Homo sapiens: one gene and its partners. The protein of the gene in region 1 purifies or fractionates together with the protein of each later gene. This does not show direct contact. Each region holds a gene or a part of one and is shown in the gene's direction. Other genes may lie near its edges. The genes, in order: BAK1, MFN2, VDAC2 and MFN1.

What was found.
Region 2: the proteins of BAK1 (region 1) and MFN2 purify together in Homo sapiens (co-immunoprecipitation; 2 studies listed by IntAct). This does not show direct contact.
Region 3: the proteins of BAK1 (region 1) and VDAC2 purify together in Homo sapiens (affinity purification with western blotting; 2 studies listed by BioGRID and IntAct, with this or other methods). This does not show direct contact.
Region 4: the proteins of BAK1 (region 1) and MFN1 purify together in Homo sapiens (co-immunoprecipitation; 2 studies listed by IntAct). This does not show direct contact.

Annotation. Positions count from the first base shown.
Region 1 is NC_000006.12:33,572,052-33,577,276, reverse strand, and holds the end of BAK1 (bcl-2 homologous antagonist/killer), read left to right. Parts: intron 1-1,348; coding exon 1,349-1,484; intron 1,485-1,835; coding exon 1,836-1,979; intron 1,980-2,751; coding exon of another isoform or gene 2,752-2,962; exon of another isoform or gene 2,963-3,056; intron 3,057-3,062; coding exon 3,063-3,243; intron 3,244-3,369; coding exon 3,370-3,474; 3' UTR 3,475-4,725; downstream 4,726-5,225. UniProt on the Homo sapiens protein: Plays a role in the mitochondrial apoptotic process. Upon arrival of cell death signals, promotes mitochondrial outer membrane (MOM) permeabilization by oligomerizing to form pores within the MOM.
Region 2 is NC_000001.11:11,976,242-11,983,444, forward strand, and holds the start of MFN2 (mitofusin-2), read left to right. Parts: upstream 1-4,202; 5' UTR 4,203-4,243; intron 4,244-5,568; exon of another isoform or gene 5,569-5,612; intron 5,613-5,728; 5' UTR 5,729-5,873; intron 5,874-6,281; exon of another isoform or gene 6,282-6,349; intron 6,350-7,203. UniProt on the Homo sapiens protein: Mitochondrial outer membrane GTPase that mediates mitochondrial clustering and fusion. Mitochondria are highly dynamic organelles, and their morphology is determined by the equilibrium between mitochondrial fusion and fission events.
Region 3 is NC_000010.11:75,213,772-75,220,810, forward strand, and holds part of VDAC2 (non-selective voltage-gated ion channel VDAC2), read left to right. Parts: intron 1-249; coding exon 250-299; intron 300-4,116; exon of another isoform or gene 4,117-4,187; coding exon of another isoform or gene 4,188-4,220; intron 4,221-5,291; coding exon 5,292-5,444; intron 5,445-5,532; coding exon 5,533-5,585; intron 5,586-6,971; coding exon 6,972-7,039. UniProt on the Homo sapiens protein: Non-selective voltage-gated ion channel that mediates the transport of anions and cations through the mitochondrion outer membrane and plasma membrane.
Region 4 is NC_000003.12:179,350,689-179,357,727, forward strand, and holds part of MFN1 (mitofusin-1), read left to right. Parts: intron 1-1,211; coding exon 1,212-1,347; intron 1,348-7,039. UniProt on the Homo sapiens protein: Mitochondrial outer membrane GTPase that mediates mitochondrial clustering and fusion. Membrane clustering requires GTPase activity. It may involve a major rearrangement of the coiled coil domains.

The DNA of each region.
Region 1 (5,225 bases):
AGAGGGCTGGGTCACGGGCGAGGGAGGCAGGAATTAGAGTGGGGCCTGGCTGCTGTATCCCTCCAGCGGGAGAAATAAGGAAGTAAGCTGGCCAATCACCCAGTCAGGTCTGCTCAACAGGGAACGCAATTATTGTGACTTGGGGAGGAAGTAAGATGGCTGCCCTCCTTCCCTCTTCCCAGGGGATAGCCAGGGAAGCCCCAGCTCACACCTCACGGCGGGCTGTTCCCTGGACTTGGGAATCAGGTCCCAGGTCTGTCACTATCTCCCTGTGTGACTTTTCTGGGCCGCAGCTACAAATTCAGATTTTGTTTCCCACATTTCCCTGCACGCAAAGGGCTGCGGAGCTGAGATGTACTAATGTAGACTCAGGACCCCAAATGCCCGGGACTGTCCCGGTTCCCCGGCTTGTTCTGGCTGTATGACCTTGCACACGTTACTCAGACACCCTGTGCCATTTTCCCCCTGCCAGCTGGGGATTGCCTGCTCCCAGGGCTACTGTGAGGACTCAATGCAAGTGCCGGAACAACTCTCCACACAGCATAAGCTCTAGGGGCGGCTAAGGTGCTGAAGTAGGGATATTTCTTTTCTTTTTTTTTTTTTTGTTTTTTTTGTTGTTGTTGTTTTGTTTTGTTTTGTTTTTTGAGATGGAGTCTCGCTCTATTGCCCAGGCTGGAGTGCAGTGGCGTGATCTAGGCTCACTGCAAGCTCCAACTCCCGGGTTCACGCCATTCTCCTGCCTCAGCCTCCCGAGTAGCTGGGACTACAGGCGCCTCCCACCACGCCTGGCTAATTTTTTGTATTTTGTTTAGTAGAGACGGGGTTTCACCATGTTAGCCAGGATGGTCTCAATCTCCTGACCTCGTGATCCGCCCGCCTTGGCCTCCCAAAGTGCTGGGATTACAGGCATGAGCCACCACACCCGGCCATTTTTTTTTTTTTTTTGAGACAGAGTTTCGCTCTTGTTGCCTAGGCTGGAGTGCAGTGGCACGATCTCCGCTCACCGCAACCTCCGCCTCCCGGGGTCAAGTAATTCTCCTGCCTCAGCCTCTTCTTGAGTAGGTGGGATTACAGGCATGTGCCACCACACCCGGCTAATTTTGTATTTTTAGTAGAGACAGAGTTTCTCCATGTTGGTCAGGCTGGTCTTGAACTCCCGACCTCAGGTGATCTGCCCACCTCGGCCTCCCAAAGTGCTGGGATTATAGGCGTGAGCCACCGCACCTGGTTGGGATATTTCTTTCCATGGGTGAGGACAGCTATGGCCTTAGGAAGAGTGAATCCCCTATAAGGCATGGGGCTGCCAGGGTTCGGCCCTCTCTCCCTGACTCCCAGCTTTGATCCTCAGAGGAGCAGGTAGCCCAGGACACAGAGGAGGTTTTCCGCAGCTACGTTTTTTACCGCCATCAGCAGGAACAGGAGGCTGAAGGGGTGGCTGCCCCTGCCGACCCAGAGATGGTCACCTTACCTCTGCAACCTAGCAGGTGAGCTACAACCGCTGGGCCCACAAGGACATCTTCAGGGAGGCAGTAGCTCGCATGGGTCTCTGTGCAGGTCCTGGGAGCTGGGGAGGCCTCGGGGGTCTTGCCCTTCTCTCATGGTTGCTCCTCTTTTATGTTGGGCTCCCACCCCCATCCAGGACCTTGTATCCTTTTTAGCCCATGCCTGCCCCTTCTCCTGGAGCCCAGCACTCATGTCTTAGAACACTGTCAGGGACCTCCAAGAAGGGATGCACAGGGCCATGGACAGCTCAGGCAGAACCCCTCTGCCATGAGCCAGGGCCTGGTCCCGACTGCCTGGTTACTGGCTCACCTGCATGCCTCCTGCTCCTACAGCACCATGGGGCAGGTGGGACGGCAGCTCGCCATCATCGGGGACGACATCAACCGACGCTATGACTCAGAGTTCCAGACCATGTTGCAGCACCTGCAGCCCACGGCAGAGAATGCCTATGAGTACTTCACCAAGATTGCCACCAGGTACCCCAGCCACCTCCCTGCCAGCTCCAGTCACTCCTCTGTCATGTCACAACCATACCATACCCTGCCTGCATGATGCTCTCCTGGCATGGGGAGAAGCCTTCTGTCAGTGTCCAATGTCTGCTGTGAACTCACATGTGGTCTCGGCCCCCTATTTTTCTCTTTCGGGGTCCCAGACTTGTATTTTGGGCATTAGCTCACAGCTCTTTTGAGCTCTGACTCCAAGGTCTTGACTGGTTAGATCAGGACTCTAGAGGGGGCCTGAGGTGGGGACGTCCCCCACAGCTCCCCAGCCCAGCTGGGACATAGCTGTCCTTCATAGTTCCAATTTGAAACCACATATCACACTGAAGATGGTGAGGGTGCTAACCTCTGCCAGGTCCTAGAAATGGCTCCTACTTGCTATAATCTGGCATCCAAGTGGTTAAAGACACCGAATATTTGGGTGCAAATCCAAGCTTTGCCACTTACTGCCTTCGTGAAGCTTCCTAGCCCTTAGTCTCCTGGTTTGTAAAATAGGGAAAATATGCTTAGATTAGTGTCCACCTTACAAAGTGTTAGCCATTGCTACCACCAGAGTTAGGGAAGTCAGTGTCGGAGTAGATTTGAAACTGGAGGTGAAGGTAGGAGTAAGTGATAGATTTTAGAATTAGTGCTCAGAGCTGAAATATCCAGTCCGTGAACTTAGAGGCCAGCCTTCATACCACTGTGATGACAGGAACTACCCTAATCTTTTCTGTCCTTTTCTCTCTGCTGTCCCTCGGGCTGCCAGGCCAGCAGCAACACCCACAGGTAATCTCCCCGCTGACTCCATCCACTTGCTCTGCCCTCTGCCCTCTCTGTGCCCCGTTGCACCTGAGCGTACACCCCAGCAGTGGCATCCAGCTCATCTGCCCCTGAGCTTTCTCCTTTCGCAGAGACCCAGGTTGTTCCCAAATACAGGCCAGGTTGGGGCAGCCTCTGCGGCCTTAATTCACAGCTAAGCTATTTAGCTTCCAGCTGGGAGAGGGGTGGGAGAGGCCAGGCAGGCTGAAGGGCTTCCTGGGGGCTCTCCACCAATGCTATGGGATGCTCTGCCCACAGCCTGTTTGAGAGTGGCATCAATTGGGGCCGTGTGGTGGCTCTTCTGGGCTTCGGCTACCGTCTGGCCCTACACGTCTACCAGCATGGCCTGACTGGCTTCCTAGGCCAGGTGACCCGCTTCGTGGTCGACTTCATGCTGCATCACTGCATTGCCCGGTGGATTGCACAGAGGGGTGGCTGGGTGAGTATCCAAGGACTGCAATGTCCTCCCTGCTGTTGGGGCTGCCCCTCTCCCAGGCCCCACCCCTTCCTCGGGTTCCTATATCTTCTGCTAGCCTCTCTGTGACCACCTTGTTTCTCCCGGCAGGTGGCAGCCCTGAACTTGGGCAATGGTCCCATCCTGAACGTGCTGGTGGTTCTGGGTGTGGTTCTGTTGGGCCAGTTTGTGGTACGAAGATTCTTCAAATCATGACTCCCAAGGGTGCCCTTTGGGGTCCCGGTTCAGACCCCTGCCTGGACTTAAGCGAAGTCTTTGCCTTCTCTGTTCCCTTGCAGGGGTCCCCCCTCAAGAGTACAGAAGCTTTAGCAAGTGTGCACTCCAGCTTCGGAGGGCCCCTGCGTGGGGGCCAGTCAGGCTGCAGAGGCACCTCAACATTGCATGGTGCTAGTGGGCCCTCTCTCTGGGCCCAGGGGCTGTGGCCGTCTCCTCCCTCAGCTCTCTGGGACCTCCTTAGCCCTGTCTGCTAGGCGCTGGGGAGACTGATAACTTGGGGAGGCAAGAGACTGGGAGCCACTTCTCCCCAGAAAGTGTTTAACGGTTTTAGCTTTTTATAATACCCTTGTGAGAGCCCATTCCCACCATTCTACCTGAGGCCAGGACGTCTGGGGTGTGGGGATTGGTGGGTCTATGTTCCCCAGGATTCAGCTATTCTGGAAGATCAGCACCCTAAGAGATGGGACTAGGACCTGAGCCTGGTCCTGGCCGTCCCTAAGCATGTGTCCCAGGAGCAGGACCTACTAGGAGAGGGGGGCCAAGGTCCTGCTCAACTCTACCCCTGCTCCCATTCCTCCCTCCGGCCATACTGCCTTTGCAGTTGGACTCTCAGGGATTCTGGGCTTGGGGTGTGGGGTGGGGTGGAGTCGCAGACCAGAGCTGTCTGAACTCACGTGTCAGAAGCCTCCAAGCCTGCCTCCCAAGGTCCTCTCAGTTCTCTCCCTTCCTCTCTCCTTATAGACACTTGCTCCCAACCCATTCACTACAGGTGAAGGCTCTCACCCCCATCCCTGGGGGCCTTGGGTGAGTGGCCTGCTAAGGCTCCTCCTTGCCCAGACTACAGGGCTTAGGACTTGGTTTGTTATATCAGGGAAAAGGAGTAGGGAGTTCATCTGGAGGGTTCTAAGTGGGAGAAGGACTATCAACACCACTAGGAATCCCAGAGGTGGGATCCTCCCTCATGGCTCTGGCACAGTGTAATCCAGGGGTGTAGATGGGGGAACTGTGAATACTTGAACTCTGTTCCCCCACCCTCCATGCTCCTCACCTGTCTAGGTCTCCTCAGGGTGGGGGGTGACAGTGCCTTCTCTATTGGGCACAGCCTAGGGTCTTGGGGGTCAGGGGGGAGAAGTTCTTGATTCAGCCAAATGCAGGGAGGGGAGGCAGATGGAGCCCATAGGCCACCCCCTATCCTCTGAGTGTTTGGAAATAAACTGTGCAATCCCCTCACCCTGACTTAGTTTTTGTATTCTCTGCTACCCCTCTTTCCATCAGGCCAGACTGTGGGAACCTGGGCACGCCTGGCATACATCTGGCTTATTACTGAATAAAACCTCACACTAGGCCTCTAGAATCCCATAGAGGCCTGAGTATGGTTCTGCAGCCCCCACTCCGATGGAAGGCGTTCGCCCCTCCCCATGAACTTCTCTCATCTCGTTGGGTTTCATGCAGTTTCCACCCTTTAGGAAGTCTGGGAGGTCCTTTAGCTACAGAGCTGGTGGAGCAGCTGCACATATCTGAGGACCCCCACAGGCTACCTCTGACCTGGGCTGAATTCTTCTCCCACCCTGGGGCTACCACCCACGCTGGTCCAAAAGGCCCTTCTCCCCCACATTTAGCTCTGCCTGGGACACAATGTCCCAGCTCCCCCTTCCTGATGTCTCCACAGTCAGCACACACGCAGGGCTTTCATTCTAGTTTTATGCTGCTTGGGAGTCCCTATGGGTACC
Region 2 (7,203 bases), on another chromosome or scaffold:
GAGGTCAGGAGTTTGAGACCAGCCTGGGCAACGTGGCGAAACCCTGTCTCTACTAATAATATGAAAAAATCAGCCGGTTGTGTTGGCATGCGCCTGTAATCCCAGCTACTCGGGAGGCTGAGGCAGGAGAATCGCTTGAACCCAGGTGGTGGAGGTTGCAATGAGCCAAGATTGGGCCACTGCACTCCAGTCTGGGTGACAGAGCAAGACTCCATCTCAATTAAAAAAAAAAAAAGATTTTTTAGTCTTTTCATTTTCAAAATTGACTCATTGTAAATTCAAACAGCACAAATCTTAATCTTTCTGTCATCCTTTCCCCCCAGCTGCTCAGTTCCTCTCTCTGAAAGCCACCATGTCTAATCTGTTTTTTGAACGTTCTTGAGCTGGTTTGTGCCGACACAAGCCTGTGTGTGTGTTTGTGTATGTTAGGGTTATTTTTGTTTTTGTTTTTGAGATGGAGTCTCACTCTGTCGCCCAGGCTGGAGTGCAATGGCATGATCTCGGCTCACTGCAACCTCTGCCTCCCGGGTTCAAGCAATTCTCGTGCCTCAGCTTCCCGAGTAGCTGGGATTACAGGCACCCGCCACCACGCCCAGCTAGTTTTTGTATTTTTAGTAGATATGAGGTTTCACCATGTTGGCCACGGTGGTCTCCAACTCCTGACCTCAGATGATCCACCTGCCTCGGCCTCCCAAAGTGCTGGCATTACAGGTGTGAGCCACTGTGCCCGGCATAGGGTTGTTTTTAACTGTTAACTTTTTTCTGATTACAAACTCATCTTCACCATGAAAAAGTCAAACAAAATAGGTAACATGGGGGGCCGGATGCTGTGGCTCACATCTGTAATCCCAGTACTTTGGGAGGCTGAGGCGGGTGGATCACTTGTGGTCAAGAGTTTGAGACCAGCCTGGCCAACATGGCAAAACCCCCATCTCTACAAAAAAATACAAAAATTAGCCAGGTGTGGTGGCAGGTGCCTGTAATCCCAGCTACTTGGGAGGCTGAGCTGGGAGAATCACTTGAACCTGGGAGGTGGAGGTTGCAGTGAGCCAAGATTGCACCACTACACTCCAGCGTGGGTGACAGAGCAATAACCTGTCAACAACAACAACAACAAAAAGTAATATGGACCGGGTGCAGTGGCTCATGCCTGTAATCCCAGCGCTTTGGGAGGCTGAGGTGGTAGGATCACTTGAGGCCAGGAATTCTCAACCAGCATGGCCAACATGGCAAAACCCTGTCTCTATTAAAAATACAAAAATAAGGTGGGCTTTATGGCACATGCCTGTAAACCCAACTACTCAGGAGGCTGCAGCACGAGAATCGCTTGAACCCGGGAGGCAGAGGTTGTAGTGAGTTGAGATTGTGCCACTGCACTCCAGCCTGGGTGAGAGAGCAAGACTCTTGTCTTAAAAAAAAAAACAAAAACGTAAGAAAGAAAGGTCTCCTGGAGTTGTACATCAGTGTGCTCTGCACCCATTCCCAATAACACTCAGCACTGCTAGGAGAGTTTTGTCATCCCGAGGGTTGAAACGAGGATTCAGCCATCTCAATGAGAAACACATGTTAATGGGTTGAAACATATCTCCAAACTGAGATTTCCTCTACTTGCTGGGCAAGTATGCAGATGTGTTTCAGAGATAAAGCCCAGCTGCTGGGCAGAGTACAAGACTAAATGCCTGGGAATGGATTCAGAGGTTCCTACAGCAGTCCAGGCAAGTGACCAGGACCTAGACCAATGCTTGCAGGGAAATTTAGGGAAGAGGAGGGAGTGGGCAGGGGAGATGTTTAGGAGAGAGAACATCCAGGCTTTCACCTGACGGGCAAGATTCTGCTAAAAAGGAAAAGGAAGGCTGGGCGTGGTGGCTCACACCTGTAATCCCAGCACTTTGGGAGGCTGAGGCGGGTGGATCACCTGAGGTCAGGAGTTTGAGACCAGCCTGGCCAACATGGTGAAACCCCATCTCTACTAAAAATACAAAAATTAGCCAGGCATGGTGGTGCACGCCTGTAATCCCAGCTAGTGGGGAGACTGAGGCGGGAGAATTGCCTGAGGCGGAGGTTGCGGTGAGCCAAGATGGTGCCACTGAGCTCCAGTCTGGGCAACAGAGTGAGAGCGAGACTCTTTCTCAAAAAAAAAGAAAAAAAAAAAAAAAGAGGAAATGGAATTTATAGTTCCTGCCCTCAGAGAATGGAAGTGGAATTTAGAGTTCCTCTCCTTAGGGAGTCCAGAGATTGTGGAGGAGGAAACAATCCGACCCAGTACCAGGCAGCTAGCAGCTGAGGCCCCAAGGCACGCTACATCCCAGACAGGGCCCTGTCTACACCCTGAGGCTGAGTCTGCGTGTGGCCCCACAGTCCACAGTCAGACCCGCGGGGCACTAGGCTACTCAGAGGGCAGTGTGGGCAGGACAGCTCCCTTTGGCCATCGTCATGAGACTGATAAACCAGTCACTTCTATATCAGAGTACTGATTTGCCTCTTGAGGTTGTTTGTGGCAATAAATTGAGGTTGTTCTACCATGGTTATAGAGCAGCACCATCCCACAGAATTACAGTTTGACCCACAAATGCAAGCTACTTATGTAATTTTAAATTTTCTAGTAGCGACATTTTTAAAAAGAAACAGGTGCAATTAATCTTAGTAATGTATTTAACCCAAATGACCCAAAATATTATCACTTCAACATGTAGTCAGCATATAAATAGTAATGGGCTAATAGCCCTGCACTGTGGCAGGTACCTGTAACCCGGCATTTTGGGAAGCCGAGGCAGGAGAAGATTGCTTGACTCCAGGAGTCCAGGAGTTCAGGACACCAGCCTGGGTAACAAAGTGAAATGCTTCCCCATGTCTACAAAAGATAAATACTAGGCATGGCTGCAGCATCTGTGGTCAGCTACTTGGGAGGCTGAGTGAGGTGGGAGGATTACTTGAGCCCAGGAGTTCGAGGCTGCAGTGAGCCGTGATTGCACCACTGCACTCCAGCTTGAGTGAGAGTGAGACTCTGGCTCAAAGATAGATTTTTTTTTTCTTTTTTGAGACGGAGTCTCTGTTGCCCAGGCTGGAGTGCAGTGGCATGATCTCGGCTCACTGCAACCTCCACCGCCCGTGTTCAAGCGATTCTCCTGCCTCTTCCTCCCGAGTGCACTATCATGCCTGGCTAATTTTTGTATTTTTAGTACAGACGGGGTTTCACCATGTTGGCCAGGCTGGTCTTGAACTCCCGATGCACCCGCCTCGCCCTCCTAAAATGCTGGAATTACAGGCTTGAGCCACCGCGCCCGGTCGATATTTTTTTTTCCTAAAAATTGAGATAGTTTAACAGCCTTTTTTGTCCTAAGTCTTATAGCGCATCTCCGTTTGCACTGGCTCAGGACTCGAGAGCCACACGTGGCTAGTGCCTACTGTTCTGGCGCGCTCAGGCTTGGAGCCTTCTCTGCGGAGGCCAAGTCCTGCAAGGGATCTGTTTGCTGCGGTTTCCTAGTAGTGTCTGCCGCATCACTGGGGCCCGGTGATCTGGGTAACCATGTGAGCTTGGGTAACCTCTCCTCTCCCTCTCCTGGGACTGCTGTGGACGTTAAATACAGCGGTGGATGTTAGAGACGCAGTTCAGTCACTGGCATTGATTCGCCGTTGTTGCTGCTCTTCTTTCCTCAAAGGCGACTGAAGGGCAGCAGGCCCATGCTCGCTTCTGTCTGCCCGATGAGTCACTTCACCCTAGGCCTGGCCCTCTAGAGAACACTCCTCTAAGATTACAGAATGCAAATCTGGATTCCAGAGCTGGCAGAGGCCCCAGGGTCAGGCTCTAGGACAACCGGCGAAAAAGCGGGAACCTCTACTCCACGCCCTTGGTTTTTCGCCCCTTGACAGCTTGAGGCTCCGCCCCGCTTTGCCCCGCCCCCCCAGCTCCGGCCGACGCCCACCGGAACTACAGCCCCCATGATGCAGTGGGAGTCCGAGCCTCTGCGTCGTCCGCTTGGGACGCGCCGGCGGAGGAGTGGCGCGCGGAGGAGTGGCGCGCTGAGACGCCGCTCGAAGCGCCGAGTCGCGGGGCAGCAGAGGCGTAAGGAGTAGGCGGGGCGAGCCGGCTGGGCTCAGGGTCCACCAGCTCACCCGGGTCGAGGGGCAATCTGAGGCGACTGGTGACGCGCTTATCCACTTCCCTCCTCCCGCCTCCCCCTGGGGTGGCGCTCGCTGGTGACGTAGTGAGTGTGATGGCCGCCGCGAGGCCGGGAAGGTGAAGGTGAGAGGGCGAGCAAGCCGGGGTGGCGGGGACTGGCCCGGCCCGGCCCGGCGAGTCCTGAGCAGCTCGGCGTGGGCCGACGGGATTCTGGGGCCACGGGGGTCTGGGATGCAGTCAAGCGGGGTCCCCACTCTCCGGCCTCGCCGCCGGGCCCTCCCCGGCCCTGAGAGGAGGGGGCGGGCCACGGGACCTGGGACTGGTCGGTGGGGTCCCCTGTAGCTTCTCATCGCCCCCGCCTTTCCACCCTTCACGGCCATGTTCTACCCCTGCCCCTTCTCTATTTTTCATCCTGTCTTCATTTTGCCAGCATTTACTCAGCACCTGATAGGTGTCCACGTTCACCGCGGGAGCGCCCTGCCATCCCCACTTTGGGCAGTTACTGCCTTCTCGTTCAGCCCTGTTTACTTATATGACTTCTCACCGGACTGTAAGGCCCTGGAGGGCAGGACTGTTTCTTATCCATTTCTAACGTGGCGCCTGACACACACAGAGAAGGCACACAGAAAATGTTGAATAAATAGCTGTTAAGACGCACGAAGGCAGAACTGCCCGTTACCCCCTCTCGTAATCCTTCATTGCCCTCTTTAAATTCTCAATCATCTCTCTCTCTTCTACCCAGAAAAGGGCTCTGGTTATCTCTTTTCTACCCAGAAAAGGGCTCTGGTTATCCGCCTCTGGTGTCCCAAGGTTTGGGGCTTGGGGGAGGAAGGCAGCTCAATGTAGTTAAAAAAGGAAGGAGGCCGGTCGCAGTGGATCACACCTGTAATCCCAGCACTTTGGGAGGCTGAGGCGGGCGGATCACCTGAGGTCAGGAGTTGGAGACCAGCCTGGCCAACATGGTGAAACCCCGTCTGTGCTAAAACCAAAAACTAGCCGGGCTTGCTGGCACACGCCTGTAATCCCATCTACTCAGGAGGCTGAGGCAGGAGAATCGCTTGAACCCGGGAGGCGGAGGTTGAGCCGAGATCGCGCTGCTGCACTCCAGGAGCTTTGGAGTCAAAGGGAGCTAATATTTCAGATCCCAGCTTAGACAAATCTTCAAGTATTCCAGCCCTCTGTCCCACAGAATAGAGAATTAAGTGAGATACTTTACAGTAGCTGAACACATTGGCTTTCAGTCAGTTCTTCTGTTCCTCAATAGTCAGCTGTTCCACAGTCCTCAAGCCCAGTTTTGTTCCTAGTTTTGCTCTGTCCTCTTCTCCCCTCTCTGGATGTACCTTTCCCAGGGCTCCTGCAGGGACCTCCGTGGTGCCTCAAACCCGCACATGGCGGAATACGTGTGCACAGTCAGGATTGGTCCCACACCTCTGCGTTTTTTTCCCCAGGGCACTTCCTCACATGCCAGCGCAACTCCCCAATACCTCAATGAGTAAGCTTCCCTCAGGGATGAGTTTGTTTGGCTTGAAACCTGATTAGACATGTTTTGTACACCAGTGTTTTTTTTTTTTGGACACCGGATCCATCTCCCTTTTCTTTTCTAATAAGTCAGGACTGGTGGAGTCAACACAGTCAATCAATAGCCAACCTCAACCTGAGACAGGACAGAAGAGAACTCAGAATCTTTTTGTCTTTTGGACTTCAGCCATGTCCATGATGCCTACCCTGTGAAGATCTCTCACCATCCAAAAAAGTAAGTAGTAGCTGTGACTTCTGGCACCCTGGATTTGAGCTGAGTGGACAGGGGTGTGCTCTCCTGGACCTCTGGTGGCAAGTCTCTTGAATGGCATCCTCTTTGTATAGAGCCACAGCTTTCTAACTTGTGTTGAAAAACTACCGTATCTTTTACTTCCGTGAAGGATTTCGCTGGTTGCTTAGAGAGCCTGTTTAAAAGTTGACAGTTCAGAAGTGGCTGGGATCTCTTGGGCTCCCTGAAGAGTTAGTCTCTGTCTCCCTCATTTGGTCTCTGCTGTGCTGGCTCTTCCCCATCTCGGCCCAGCACAGGTTGGCTCCTTGTCACTGCTCTTTTAAGACTCTGCTCTGTCCCCTTTACCCTGTATACTCTTTTTGTTTCGATTTCTCAGCTTCTCCTCTTTTCCAGTTGTGCCAGCAGACGATCCGTGGATCCATTTTATTTTCCCTGCTAGGAGTTGCTGTACATAACACTGGGTAAGGAGGTGGTGTGGATTCAGGGACTGTGCTTGGGATCCAAACACACCTTGCAGTGAATTTTGCTACTGCTGTCTCTACACCCAAGATACCTAATACTCCTCAACGAATAGCCTAGGTTGAGGCAAAGCTGTTGACCACCTTGGAGGGCTAATAGCAGTTTCCATTTAGAACTGGGTTCATTTCTGGTCTTAGGTTAATATTTATTAATACTGTGCCCTGGCACTTTTTAGGGGTAGGGGCAGGAGAGTACCAGAAAGAGTGGGCTTTTCCCTAAAGTGTGATCCTCGGGATTTTAAAAGCTATTACACAGAAGGGTTTTTTCATTGATTATATTTGTGAAATGCTGAATTCAACACAGTTAAACTAGTGTCTTTACAACAAGGCTTCCTTCCCAAACTCTTTTGCTGTGCTCACGTGCTCCACTGAGGAAAATGGTAGCATATGGTGTTTTTTGTTTGTTTGTTTGTTTTTTGTTTTTTTTGAGACAGAGTCTTGCTCTGTCACCCAGGCTGGAGTGCAGTGGCGCGATCTTGCAGTGGCGTGATCTTGGCTCACTGCAAGCTCTGCCTCCCAGGTTCACACTATCCTCCTGCCTCAGCCTCCCGAGTAGCTGTACTACAGGTGCATGCTGCCATGCCTGGCTAATTTTTTGTAGTTTTAGTAGAGATGGGGTTTCACCGTGTTAGCCAGGATGGTCTCGAACTCCTGACCTTGTGATCTACCCACCTCGGCCTCCCAGAGTGCTGGGATTACAGGCGTGAGCCACCGCGCCTGGCCTAGCATATGGTGTTTTACAAACTGATTCTACTATTGAACCTTCTTTACATGGGATATTGGGTGCAAGTCGAGTT
Region 3 (7,039 bases), on another chromosome or scaffold:
TTGAAAGCATTCTTTTGTGTACCAACTACCAAAAACTAGACAAAGCAGCATAGGGATAATTCTGCCCTTTATAAGCCAGTTTACAAAAGACGAATTTGTAACAATTTCATTTAAATATTGTATATTAACACATTTTTATCCACCTCTGAATATGTGGAATCTTTTTGTTTTTTATGTATAGTCAACAATTGCTATGCATCTTTCATACAAAGGAATCATTTTGTTTCTTTTGCTGTCTATTTGTTGAAGGTTTTGGGTTGGTGAAACTGGATGTGAAAACAAAGTCTTGCAGTGGCGTGGTGAGTGTTACTGTTGAATAAGTTCTATTGAACCTTTATAATTTTTCAACTTGTAAAATGGTCATAACTGAAAGATGTCTACCTGTTTTGTCTTAAAGAAGAGGCAGAAGTTAACTTTGTTTTAAGAGATTTGCGTGTAACCTGATTTATTTTGGCCTTGAATGTGATTTCTGATTTTCATGTGGTCTTTCGTCATATTATGTATGCACAAGGAACTTAGGAAAGACCAGTCAGGTGGTACTCTTTACTCGTAAGATTACACATTTGAAGGCAGGGAACCCATTATTAGACTTTTTTGTAACCCTTTGTCAACAATGCTCGTCAGAGTTATGGGCATAAAAATATCAGGAACTCATTAATTTGAGTGTACTAATCATTTATATAATGTCCATTTTCTAGCAGTTCTCCCTGGAGAAGATTTCCACATGTATTTTATGAGTTTAGGGAGTCCTGATCTGAATTTTTTTTTTTTGAGACGGAGTCTCACTGTGTCACTTAGACTGGAGTGCAATGGTGTGATTGTGGCTCACTGCAACCTCCGCCTCCTGAGTTCAGGTGATTCTCTTGCCTCAGCCTCTCTAGTAGCTGGAATTACAGGTGCCTGCCACCACGCCTGACTGATTTTTGTATTTTTAGTAGAGCTGGGGTTTCACCATGTTGGCCAGGCTGGTCTCCAACTCCTGACCTCAGGTGATCCACCCACCTTGGCCTCCCAGAGTGCTGGGATTACAGGTGTGAGTCACCATGCCCAGCCAAGAATATTTTTAAAGAGGTTAATATTTTGGTATTTGGGTGTCTTGATAGTTCAATGAACTGTTTACAAAGGGGATAAACTAATATTTAACTTTTTTCGAGACAGGGTCTCACTCGGTTGCCCAGGCTGGAGTGCAGTGAGTGCAGTGGCACAATCTCAGCTCACTGCAGCCTCGACCTCTTGGGCTCAAGCAATCTTCCCACCTCAGCCTCCCAAGCATCTGGGAGTACAGGCCGTATCCATCATGCCTGAGTATTTTTTGTAGTTTTTCTAGAGATGACGTTTTGCCATGTTGCCCAGGCTAGTCTTGAACTCCTGAGCTCAAGTGATCCACTTGCCTTGGCCTCCCAAAGTGCTGGGATTACAGATGTGAGCCACCATGCCCAGCTAGTAAAATTTAACTTTGTGAAATTTTTTTTACTTAAAAAATTTTTGTTTTGAGATTATTTTAGGGGTGGGTGTGTGTGCACATTAGAATACTATAGGTTATTTTGATATATGTATGTATGTATATATATAGAGAGAGAGAGACTTTTTTTTTTTTTGAGACGGAGTCTTGCACTGTCACCCAGGCTGGAGTGCAGTGGCATGATCTCAGCTCACTGCAAGCTCCACCTCCCAGGTTCATGCCTTTCTCCTGCCTCAGCCTCATGAGTAGCTGAAACTACAGACACGGGCCACCACGCCCAGCTAATTTTTTTGTATTTTTAGTAGAGATGGGGTTTCACCATGTTAGCCAGGATGGTCTCAATCTCCTGACCTCATGATCTGCCCACCTCGGGCTCCCAAAGTGCTGGGATTACAGGCGTGAGCCACCGCGCCCGGCCTATATAGACATTTTTGATGTAGTGCATGTAACTGATATTTATTTAATCGTATTGTAGTTTTTTTGTTTTGTTTTTTTTTTTTTCCTCTGAGACGCAGTCTTGCTCTGTCGCCCAGGCTGGAGTGCAGTGGCATGATCTCAGCTCACTGCATCCTCCACCTCCCAGGTTCAAGTGATTCTCCGGCCTCAGCCTCCCAAGTAGCTGGGATTACAGGTGCTTGCCACCATGCCCCGCTAATTTTTGTATTTTTAGTAGAAACAGGGTTTTGCCATGTTGGCCAGTCTGGTCTTAAACTCCTGACCTCAAGTGATCCCAAAGTGTTGGGATTACAGGCGTGAGCCACAGCGCTAGCCCTGTAGTTTAAAAGCCTAGGCCTGTTGGATTTCTGGGGATTTACATTGATCATATCTGTCGCTTGGTTTTTTTGGTCTGAAAGGAAGCTTAGGTGTTTAGTTATGATTGGATGACTTATTTGGCCAAGTTAACAGGTTACAGAGCAGTGATTTTTAGTGTTTTTTAATGTTCCCATTGTTAGTCTATTGAGGCCCCTAGTGTATTTGTTGAAACACAAAAGGCCTTCTAAAAAAGATTCAGTCCTTGTGTTTAAAAAGCTTACTTTCTAGTTGGAGAGACAAAATAAACTGAGAGTACTGAGGTAATTAATATCAAATATTAGATCGTTGGATAATCAAATCTTTGTTGGAAAGGAATAGATTGTTGTGTATAGGGTTAGGGAAAGTTTTATGGAAGTAGGTTTAAGAGCATGAAGGATATGTAGGAGCTGGATTAGATATAGCATGTTTTTATTCACATTTAATACATGTAACTCAACAACCATGGTATTGATCCTATAGTATGTCTCTGGCCCCAGATAAGTCCCATTAATACCTGGCTCTGTTTTCTTACCTGAACAGCAAAGCTACTGAAGCCACCCCAGAATGTAGAAGCCAAAATTTCTGGTGGTAAAGGGTATGAGCTGTAATCTGGCCCAACTCTGGTCCCACAGGGTGGTGTTGGCTTTGTTTCTTGAGGCTTCCTTGGCATGTGTATATAGGCTGGCTCTTGATCTGTGGGCTGATGAATGGCCGTAGGTGGGGCCCCAAGAGTCATTAATGTCATTCAGGATTAAAAATAGCTACTCACACATTCCCCATTCAAACTGCTAGAAAAACCTGTTCCATATATATTGTTTTAGTAATGCTTTCCTTTTCTGTGGAGCATATGAAAACGTACAAACTTTCACAGTGTCAGTTCAATTTAATCATTCGGAGGTAGGCTTTGTAATTATAGTTGCAGAAACAGACCCAAAAAAGTTAAGTGAGGCTGGTCACAGTGGCTCATTCCTGTAATCCCAGCGCTTTGGGAGGCCAAGGCAGGAGGATCCCTTGAGCCCAGGAGTTCTGAGACTCACCTGGGCAACATAGTGAGACCCCGTCTCTACAAAAAAATTTAAAAATTAGCTGTGCTTGTTGGTGGGTACCTGAAGTCCCAGCTACTTGGGAGGCTGAGATAGGAGGATCGCTTGAGCCCAGGAGTTTGAGGCTGCAGTGAGCTATGACTGTGGCACTGTACTCCAACCTGGGCGACAGAGTGAGACCCTGTCTCCAAAAAAAACCGCAAAATGTTGTGTCCTGCTCAGTGTGATGCATTTAGTAAATGACACGAAGAACTGGACATCAGAACTCCTAATTTTTATATCTAGTGTTTCCTAACATGATCCAGTGCTTTTTTGTTTAATTGGAAATGGAGTCTCACTCACTCCATCACTCAAGCTAGAGTGCAGTGGTGCCATCTTGGCTCACTGCAACCTCAGGTTCTCAGGTTCAAGTGATTTTCCTGCCTCAGACTCCTGAGTAGCTGGGATTACAGGGATGCACCACCATGCCCGGCTAATTTTTGTATGTTTAGTAGAGACGGGGTTTCACCATGTTGGCTAGGCTGGTCTCAAACTCCCTACCTCAAGTGATCGGCCCGCCTTGGCCTCCTGAAGTGCTGGGATTACAGGTGTGACCCACCACACCCAGCCAGTCCAGTGCTTTTTAGTATAGGTATTGAGGGCTATGCTTTGACTTGAAATTCCTGTTAATGAAAGGGTCTAATTTAGGAGAGTGATGTAAGACCTAAGGATTTGTCTCTAACAGCAGAGCAATAGTTATACAAATGTTCTATTTTCTGAGAGAAGGTTGACTGGCCTTTCCTCCTATTGATACAATTTTTGATATTTCTCACTCTACAGATATCACAATTTCTGGCTGTAGTCTCTTTATTATTTTCACATCAGCTGTCTTCCTTAGGCTTGGCGTGGTGATGCTTGTGATCCCAGCTACTCAGGAGGCTGAGGTACGTGGATCACTTGAGCCTGGGAGGTTGAGGCTGCAGTCAGCTGTGATCACATCATTGTGTTCCAGCTTGGGTGACAGAGGCAAGATGCTGTCTCAAAAAAAAAAAAAAAATTCAGATAAGCCCTCCGTATTTTTTCTTTTTCAGTTCGTGTGCAACCAGGGATTGGCACATTATTATTTTTAGACAGGGTCTCACTGTGTCACCCATGCTGAGTGCAGTGGTGGGATTATGGCTCACTGCAGCCTGGACCTCCCAGGCTCAAGCAGTCCTCCCACCTCTGCCTCCTGAGTAGCTGGGACTACAGGCGCACACCACCACGCTGAGCTGGTTTCTTAATTTTTGTAGAGACATGGTCTTGCTATGTTGCCCAGGCTGGTATCTAAGTGCTGGGATCACAGGCATGAGCCACCACACTCAGTCCCCCATTGATTTTTGAATCCCAAATAAAATCACCTTAGCAAAACCTTCCTTAAAAGATGTACAGTTAGCTGGGGTGGTGGCTTACGTTTGTAATCCCAACACTTTGGGAGGCCGAGGTGGGTGGATCACCTGAGGTCAGGAGTTGGAGACCAGCCTGACCAACATGGTGAAACTCCATCTGTACTAAAAATACAAAAATCAGCTGGGTGTGGTGGCGGGCACCTGTAATCCCAGCTACTTGGAAGGCTGAGGCAGGAGAATCACTTGAACCTGGAAGGCGGAGGTTGCAGTATGCCGAGATCACGCCACTGCACTCCAGCCTGGCGATAGAGCGGGACTCTGTCTCAAAAAAAAAAAAAGGTGTACAGTTTGTTCACTTGAGAATTCACTACAGGTTAACTTGTGATTGATTGGAAGTGTCAGCTGTGTATGTAAAGTGGCAGTCAGTTGCTCAAAGGCTTATTTGTCACTCTTATATATGCTTAGAGAGTAGCACAGTGCAGAAGGATACGAGTGTTTAGGAAGCTAGAAAAAGGATTCATGAATTTACCAAATGTTTCAGGGGGTTTGTGTGTGTGTGCGTGTGTAAGGCAGTGATGAATTCTAGGCTTATGAGAATGTTCATGAAGTTATTGATTGTCTTGTTAGGAATTTTCAACGTCCGGTTCATCTAATACAGACACTGGTAAAGTTACTGGGACCTTGGAGACCAAATACAAGTGGTGTGAGTATGGTCTGACTTTCACAGAAAAGTGGAACACTGATAACACTCTGGGAACAGAAATCGCAATTGAAGACCAGGTAACATTTTGAAAATTTTAGTATTAATTTTATTAATTTATTTTTGTATTTCAAAAAAAGAAAACAAATTACTTTTCTTTCAAAATAGATTTGTCAAGGTTTGAAACTGACATTTGATACTACCTTCTCACCAAACACAGGGTAAGCACAGACATTTTTATCTGTATTACATTTAAAAGTATTTCTCTTTTGTATATTTAGAAAAGGTGTACATTTACTGTTTGATAGCTTATTAAGCTACCTTGTGGTGGTGAAATCTCTGTATCTGCTTTTATTTATTTATTTGAGATGGAGTCTTTGCTGTGTCACCCAGGCTGGAGTGCAGTGGCATCATCTTGGCTCACTGCAGTCTCAGCTTCCTGGGTTCAAGCGATTCTTCTGCCTCTGCCTCCCTGAGTAGCTGGGACTACAGGTGCGTGCCACCACGCCCAGCTAATTTTTGTATTTTTAGTAGAGGCGGGGTTTCGCCATGTTGGCCAGGCTGTCCTGGAACTCCTGACCTCAGGTGATCTGCCCACCTTGGCCTCCCAGAGTGGTGGGATTACAGGCATGAGCCACCACGCCCAGCCTTTTTTTTTTTTTCCATATTTTATTTTATTGTATTTATTTTATTTTATTTTATTTTCATTTGGGACAGAGTCTTACTCTGTCACACAGGCTGGAGTGCAGTGGCGCGATCTCGGCTCACTGCAACCTCTGCCTCCCGGGTTTAAGTGATTCTCCTGCCTCAGCCTCCTGAGTAGCTGGGATCACAGGCATGTGCCACCACGCCCACCTAATTTTTGTATTTTTGGTAGAGACAGGGTTTCACCGTGTTGATCAGGCTGGTCTTGAACTCCTGACCTCGTGATCTGCCCACCTCAGCCTCCCAAAGTGCTGGGATTACAGGTGTGAGCCACCGCTCGCAGCCTGTTTGTTTATTCTCTGTCACCCAGGCTGGAGTGCAATGGTGCGATCTTGGCTCACTGCAACCTCTGCCTCCTGGGTTGAAGCGATTCTCCTGCCTCAGCCTCCTGAGTAGCTGGGATTACAGGCATATGCCACCGTGCCTGGCTAAATTTTTTTGTATTTTTAGTAGAGACGGGATTTCACCATGCTGGCCAGGCTGATCTTAAACTCCTGACCTCAGGTGATCCGCCCGCCTCAGCCTCCCAAAGTGCTGAGATTACAGGCGGGAGCCACCATGCCTGGCCCATATCTGCTTTTAGAATACTATGGTTGCTATCATTGGCTTGCCTTCAAATATTTGCCTCTTTGTTGTTGCACTAACTTGGGCAACTAATGTGTTTCTAACAGGCTTTTGTGACTGATTGTTTGTTCTGCAAAGCAGTTTTCCTAGATGGCTGTCCAGTTGCTTCATGTGTCCTTGTCTTGTAGTTCATTGAGCTGACTTTTTTACTCCCTGTTATTGTATTGCTGATTTTTACTCCCTGGTCATACTGCAGTTTATTTAAGTCTGTTTTGTGCTCTCTTGTGCAGAAGTGTGTGTAAATTTTTCCCAATGACATCAGTTTGTTCTTTTTCCAGAAAGAAAAGTGGTAAAATCAAGTCTTCTTACAAGAGGGAGTGTATAAACCTTGGTTGTGATGTTGACT
Region 4 (7,039 bases), on another chromosome or scaffold:
ACTTAAACCAGTCTGTCCGTTATTCACCAAATTGCACATATTTTATTAATGCGTTAGAAAAGTATGGTGAGATATGAGAAGCTTAATTGGATGTGCACTGGAGAAGTTTTAAGTGGCAGTGTTTGTCTCTAATTAGGGTCATTCAGATAGCCAGATGAATCTTTTTGTTTTTGTTTTTGTTTTTTTGAGACGATGTCTCACTCTGTCACCCAGGTTGGAGTGCAGTGGCACCATCTCGGCTCACTGCAAACTCTGCCTCCGGATTCAAGTGATTTCCAGCTAATTTTTGTACTTTTAGTAGAGATGGTGTTTTACCATATTGTTCAGGCTGGTCATGAACTCCTGACCTCAAGGGATCTGCCCACTTCGGCCTCCCAAAGTGCTAGGATTATAGGCGTGAGCCCCCACGCCCACATGAATCTTCATGTCTTTACCTTCAAAAAGAGGTGATAAGAATGTAAACATCAGGTTATCTCCTATTCCTGAGTTATAAAAAAAACTGAAAGATTTTTCTATTTTTCAAACCCAGGCTTTTTCAACTACCTCCAGCCATGGAGGAGAGGTGAGGGCTGGGATGTGCGGTTAAACCCTAAACCTGATAAGAGTGAAAGTGGGATACAATCTGATGAGATCGAGTGCATTCAGGGTGGTATGGCTGTAGATAGGATACAACCTGTAATTCTCTTTCTTCTCTGTCTTTGTGTTAAGTGAGCTGTTTCACCTCATCCCTGGGGGAAGCAGATAGAACGTGGTAAAGTAGCAAGGTCTTTCCTAGCTTGGAGACCTTGCACTGTATCTTAATTTCTGAGGGGCTCCTATTCAAACCTCACTTTTTTCTCTCAGTATGTGGCTCCCCCTTCTGAGCTCAAGATCTGAAGATCCATTCAGTCAGGTTGGAACAATAATAGGTCAGTGTTAGGTTCTAGTTTCTCTCTTTAGAAATGTATTCTTGTCTCAAGGGTAGCTTGTATGTTTGAGACCTAGAAGTCCACTTTTGACTGTGCCCTTGCAACTTTTAATATTCTTGAAATTCTTTTGGGCGGGATTCTTGTGACCCATTGCCACGGAGTATGCACCTTTTACCAAACATTGAGATGCTGTGGGTGGCATGTTAACATAAAGCAAAAATACATACAATCTTAGGTATTCCATTATATAACTAACTTAATATTCATTTATATCACTTTTCTAATGCCATTTCAATTTTGCAGCAACATATAAGAATCCGGAACTTGATCGAATAGCCACTGAAGATGATCTGGTAGAAATGCAAGGATATAAAGACAAGCTTTCCATCATTGGTGAGGTGCTATCTCGGAGACACATGAAGGTGGCATTTTTTGGCAGGTAATTATTTATTATTACTTCTAAGATTAGTTTCCAGGAATCAGCTTTGTGTCTGATGTTTCAACAAGTAATATTTCTCCCATCCTCCCCCAGCCCCGCAAGTTTCTGCCTGTGTTGAATGTTAAAGCTGTTAGCATGTGAAAGAATTTGTGCATTTTACCTCCTGGTATAAAATGAAGCTTTATGAAAGTCAATCATATTTTTACCTTTTAATGATTCTCATCTCTAAGAATTGGCTTGTAGACAGTTTTAAGAATGGAAATATAGATAAATGATAAGCATACTTTGTGTTTTACTCTTTTAAGTTTACTTGATTATGTGAAAGTTTCAGAAGCTAGGATGAAATCACTTTTGTCATACCTAGACAGGCCTAGAAGGAAAGAGGCTCTTGTCTGAGATAACTATTTCCAAGGACTTTCTAGAAATTCTTTCAAATCTCCTGCTTTGATAAGACTTATCAATAAACATACTTTAGGACTGCCTTAATTCAGATAAAATGTTTTCAGGAGAGTTCTTGCCCAGTAATGGCATCTCCGCCAATGAACTGACAATAACTGGCGTTGAACCTCTGGAACCAAATAACTCTTGTTTCTAGGCAGCTTATGTAAATCTCTTTTTGCTAATAGAAACCCCTCTTACCCTCACTGAATGCACTGGTATGCCATTCCATGCATTCCAGATTATAATCTTTATTTTTGATTCCCAAGTAAACTCAGCATTTTTTTTTTCCCCCTGAGAGGGAGTCTCACTCTGTCTCCCACGCTGGAGTGCAGTGGCACAATCTCGGCTCGCTGCAACCTCCACATCCCGGGTTCAAGCGATTCTCCTGCCTCAGCCTCCCTAGTAGCTGGAATTATAGGCGTGTGCCACCATACCTGGCTAATTTTTGTATTTTTAGTAGAGGTGGGGTTTCACCATATTGGCCAGGCTAGTCTTGAACTCCTGACCTCAGGTGATCCACCCGCCTTGGCCTCCCAAAGTGTTGGAATTACAGGCGTGAGCCACCGCATCCAGCCTAAATTTTTTTTTTTTTTTTTGAGACAGAGTCTCAGTCCGTTGCCAGGTTGGAGTGCAGTGGCACCATCTCGGCTCACTGCAACCTCCGCCTCCCGGGTTCAAGCAATTCTCCTGCCTCAGCCTCCCTAGTAGCTGGGACTACAGGCGTGTGCTGCCACACCTGGCTAATTTTTTTTTTTTTTTTTTGTATTTTAGTAGAGATGGGGTTTCACCATGTTGCCCAGGCTGGTCTCGAACTACTGAGCCCAGGCAATCCGCCCACCTCGACCTCCCAAAGTGCTGGGATTACAGGCGTGAGCCACCGCGCCTGGCCCCAGCATAATTTTTATATTTTTATTAGAGATAGGGTTTCACCATGTTGGCCAGGCTGGTCTCAAACTCCTGACCTCAAGTGAACCACTCACCTCGGCCTCCCAAAGTGCTGGGATTACAGGCGTGAGCCACTGTACCTGGCTAATTTAGAGGTGATTTTCTTTAGTGTCTTTCTTAAGTTTGACAATTATCTGGATTATGGCGGGGAGAAAAAGGCAGTGATCAGGTACGTCTTCCAAAATTTTCAACTCCATCATTCCTAGAGGGAGAGTAGGAGGCGTACATTGGTGTAACAGTCCAGAGTGATAGGGTGATCTCTGCCACAGCTTATATGCAAAGACAAATGACTAGCTCCATAACTGGTTATTCAGCTATCTGTGCTGTGTACCAACAGAGGCATTTATTTACTAAATAACTTCATAGGCCTTCTAAGCTATTTTCCCATCGTAGGGCTTTTGCCCTTGCAATTCCCTTTGCCTACAACTCACCTTTCCTTGTTGTAGCTACGTCTAGTGCCTTCTCATTCTTCATATTTCATCCTAAATGTTACTACCTTGGACACCTTCTCTGACCACCCTATCTAAATTATTCCTTCTCAGTTATTTTCTGTTAAAGCATCCTCTTAATGTCTTTCAACACTTTTCACAAAGCTCTTATTTTATGTTTTTATTTTCTGCTTCTCCCATTTGACCATATTCTCAGGGCCTTACACAGAGTCTGGCATGAGACAGCTCCATTTAAAAAGATCCTACTTCAGATTAGGGTGGAGTAGGAAGGAAGAGCCTCCTGGGAAGGTGATGACTCAACTGTCCTACTGAGAATGAGAAATAGGTATAGCTTTGGATGTGAAAAAGGTCCAAAAGCTCATTTCTTGCAGAAAGCCATAAATAGAAAGGGGTAGGGAGACCACAGTGTGTTTGGAGAACTCAAGTAGTTGAATTTAAGGTGTTACGAAACAATAGCAAAAGAAGAGACTTTGTAAGCAAAAGTCAGATTGTAAAAGACCTTGTATTAATATATCATGGTAAGGCGTTCTGCATTCTTTTATTTTGGAAAATAGTCCTGAGAGGATTGGATGTTACAATTATAACCTTAGATATAATGGGGAGAATGAATTGAATGAGAACAGGGGTAGGAGGCAGTTGTGATAATGTTACCAGAAAGGGGCCCCACTCCTAACCCCAAGAGAGGGTTCTTGGACCTTGCGCAAGAAGGAATTCCGGATGGGTCCATAAAGTGAAAGCAAGTTTATTAAGAAAATAAAGGAATAAAGAATGGCTGCTGCATAGGCAGATCAGTCCCGAGAACTGCTGCTTTGGTATTTTTATGGTTATTTCTTGATTGTATGCCAAACAAAGGGTGGATTATTCATGAGTTTTCCAGGTAACGGGTAGGCAATTCCCAGAACTGAGGGTTGGTACCTGTCCCCCACTTTTTCTTTTTTTGGGAGACAGAATTTCACTCTTGTCACCCAGGCTGGAGCGCAGTGGCGTGATCTTGGCTCACTGCAACCTCTGCCTCCCGGCTTCAAGCGATTCTCCTGCCTCAGCCTCCCTATAGTAGCTGGGATTACAGGAGTGCACCACCACACCCAGCTAATTTTTGTATTATTTGTAGAGATGGGATTTCACCATGTTGGCCAGCCTGGTCTCGAACTCCTGACCTCAGGCCATCCACCCACCTCGGCCTCCCAAAGTGCTGGGATTACAGGTGTGAGCCCCCGTGCCCAGCTGGTACCTCCCCTTTTTAGCCCATATATGCATCCATTCTGGATGTTGCCATGGCATCTAAACTGTATGTATTATATACATATAATATATATATTACAATGAGCAGTGAGGACGACCAGAGGTCACTTTCATCGCCATCTTGGTTTTGGTGGGATTTGGCCACTTCTTTTATCAGCAAGGTCTTTGTGACCTGTATATTGTGCCAACCTCCTATCTCATTCTGTGACTTAAAATGCCTCATCTCCTGGGAATGCAGCCCAGTAGGTCTCATCCTCATTTTAACCAGCCCCTGTTCAAGATGGAGTTGCTCTGCTTCAAACACCTCTGACAGTAGTATAGGCAGGAAATTGTGTGTGTTTAATACAACTATATATATTCAAGTATAGTTACCAAAAAGGCAGTTGGAAATATGAGACTTGGACTAGGGAGAATTCTAGGAAATTTAGGAATTATTGGCTTATGTTGGTGATTGAGATCACAGGAGTTGATGAGATGATCCAGGGAGAGTGTGTAATGAAAAACAATGACAGCACTGGGGAGAGGAAGAGGGACTATCCATGGAAATGCCAGCCAGGGGCCAGGCGTGGTGGCTCACACCTATAATCCCAGCACTTTGGGAGGCCGAGGCAGGTGGATCACCTGAGGTCAGGAGTTTGAGACCAGGCTGGCCAACATGGTGAATCCCTGTCTCTACCAAAAATAGAAAAATTAACTGGGTGTGGTGGTGCACTCCTGTAATCCCAGCTACTTGGGAGGCCTTGGCAGGAGAATCACTTGAACTCAGGAGGTGCAGGTTGCAGTGAGCTTACATCGCACCACTGCACTCCAGCCTGGGCCACAGAAGGAGACTCCATCTCAAACAAGAAAAAAAAATGCCAGCCAGGTAAAAGGAAAATTAGAAAGCATTGGTATGGTATAAAAAGAAATATATTTGATCTTTGTCCCATTCTTGTCACAGAGCTTCTAAAACCATAGGAATTCCCTGAGTGATTGGAGTATCTTGTTTTCATAATGAGCCCTTTTTAATGACAACTGAATTTATGCTAATGAGTGGTTTAGGGTGGGGTGCCTAGATAACCTCAGAGGGTGACCAGTCACCTGAAAGGTTAAGTGATCAGGGGATTAGAGGACTGGAACTTTCCTTCCCACCCACCCATTTCCAGGAAGGGTGGGGGAGGACAGGCTGAAAATTAGGCTTTATGAAAACTCTTGAACATGATTGGACTTCCAGGTAACTAAACTCATGGTTACGCTGGGAGAGTGGCATGCTGAGAGGGCATGAATGCTCAGGCATCTCATCTGTGTCACTTACAATATCCTTTATAATGAACCAGTAAATGTAAGTATAGTGCTTCCCTGAGTTCTGTGAGCTATTCTGACATTGAACCAAGATGGGAAGAGGTAGAAATGAATGATAGGACACCCAGTTGGTGTTTGCTGGAGAACCACTTCATGCATGTGGAAAAATCCCCATATATCTAGTTATGAAGTGTTCTGTGTTGATTTTGATAGTAGAGGAGAAAAAGTTTCTATTTCCACAGTTGTTTTTTTTGTTCGTTTTGGGAAGGCAGGGTGACAGTGTGTCTCACTTTAGTATGCATAAGAATCATCCCAAGAGCATCCCCAGAGTCTTGATTCTTTAGGTTCACAGTTCACTTGAGGAATCTGCATCATTAATGGGCTCCCCAGATGATTCTTATATGGGGTGGAGGGACCCAAACTGTAACTATAGGAGGTCCATCACCCAATGTATGCAGCAAGTTGATATGCTGAGACACCAGGTTGCAGCAGAGAAGAGGTTTAATCGTAGGGTCACCAAATGAGGAGATGGGGGGGAACCTTAATCCATCTCCCCAAGGAATTTGAGGTTAGGGTTTTTAAGGTTTTTGGAGTACCCAAAGTGTAGAGGTCGTTGATTGGTTGCAACTTGCAGAGTGAAGTCATGGGACAGGGAGATAATAAGGCTAGGCTGTATTCGCATGCTGATCCATATCATTCCTCTGTGGGGGGTCTTCAAACTGGTTGCTGGATCTGGGGGCCCAAAAAACATCTTAAGCTATCCTTAAAAGTGTTACGATTCTAATGTCAGAGCTCCTGTCTATAGAAAGAATGGGGGTGCAAATGGTCAGTATCTGGTGTTACATGACATTTAGCAACAAGGAAGTGGGCCAAAGTGCAGCCTGATTATTAATGAGCTACAGCCATATTTCTGTCCAGACCCCGGCATGTAATTCTTGTTAACCCTATGGGGATGGTTTCAGAACTACTCTTGAGGATCACTGCAAGGCTTCATGAAATGTCCAGAAAGATAAATCTTAAGAGAGATCCTAGGCATCCTTGCAGGATGTGGTATATTGGCAATAGAAGCCAATGTTGAGCTAATGAAGGCAAGAAGGTTCCCTGGGAAGGGAGTTGGGAATGATATCCATAACATAAAGAAAAGTTCTTTCCCTCTTATGCTAAAGGAAAGAGGTAAAACATATGCCGAAAAGATAGGATGCTTTTGCAGTGAACCAAAAGGCTCCCAGTGATATCTGGGACTTGGGTTGACTTAATGGAAAGCAAGTCCCTGAAGTGAGTGTGAGTTCTTTGCATTTCAGAGCCATCAAAAGTGTCCTTTTTCCTATGACTGC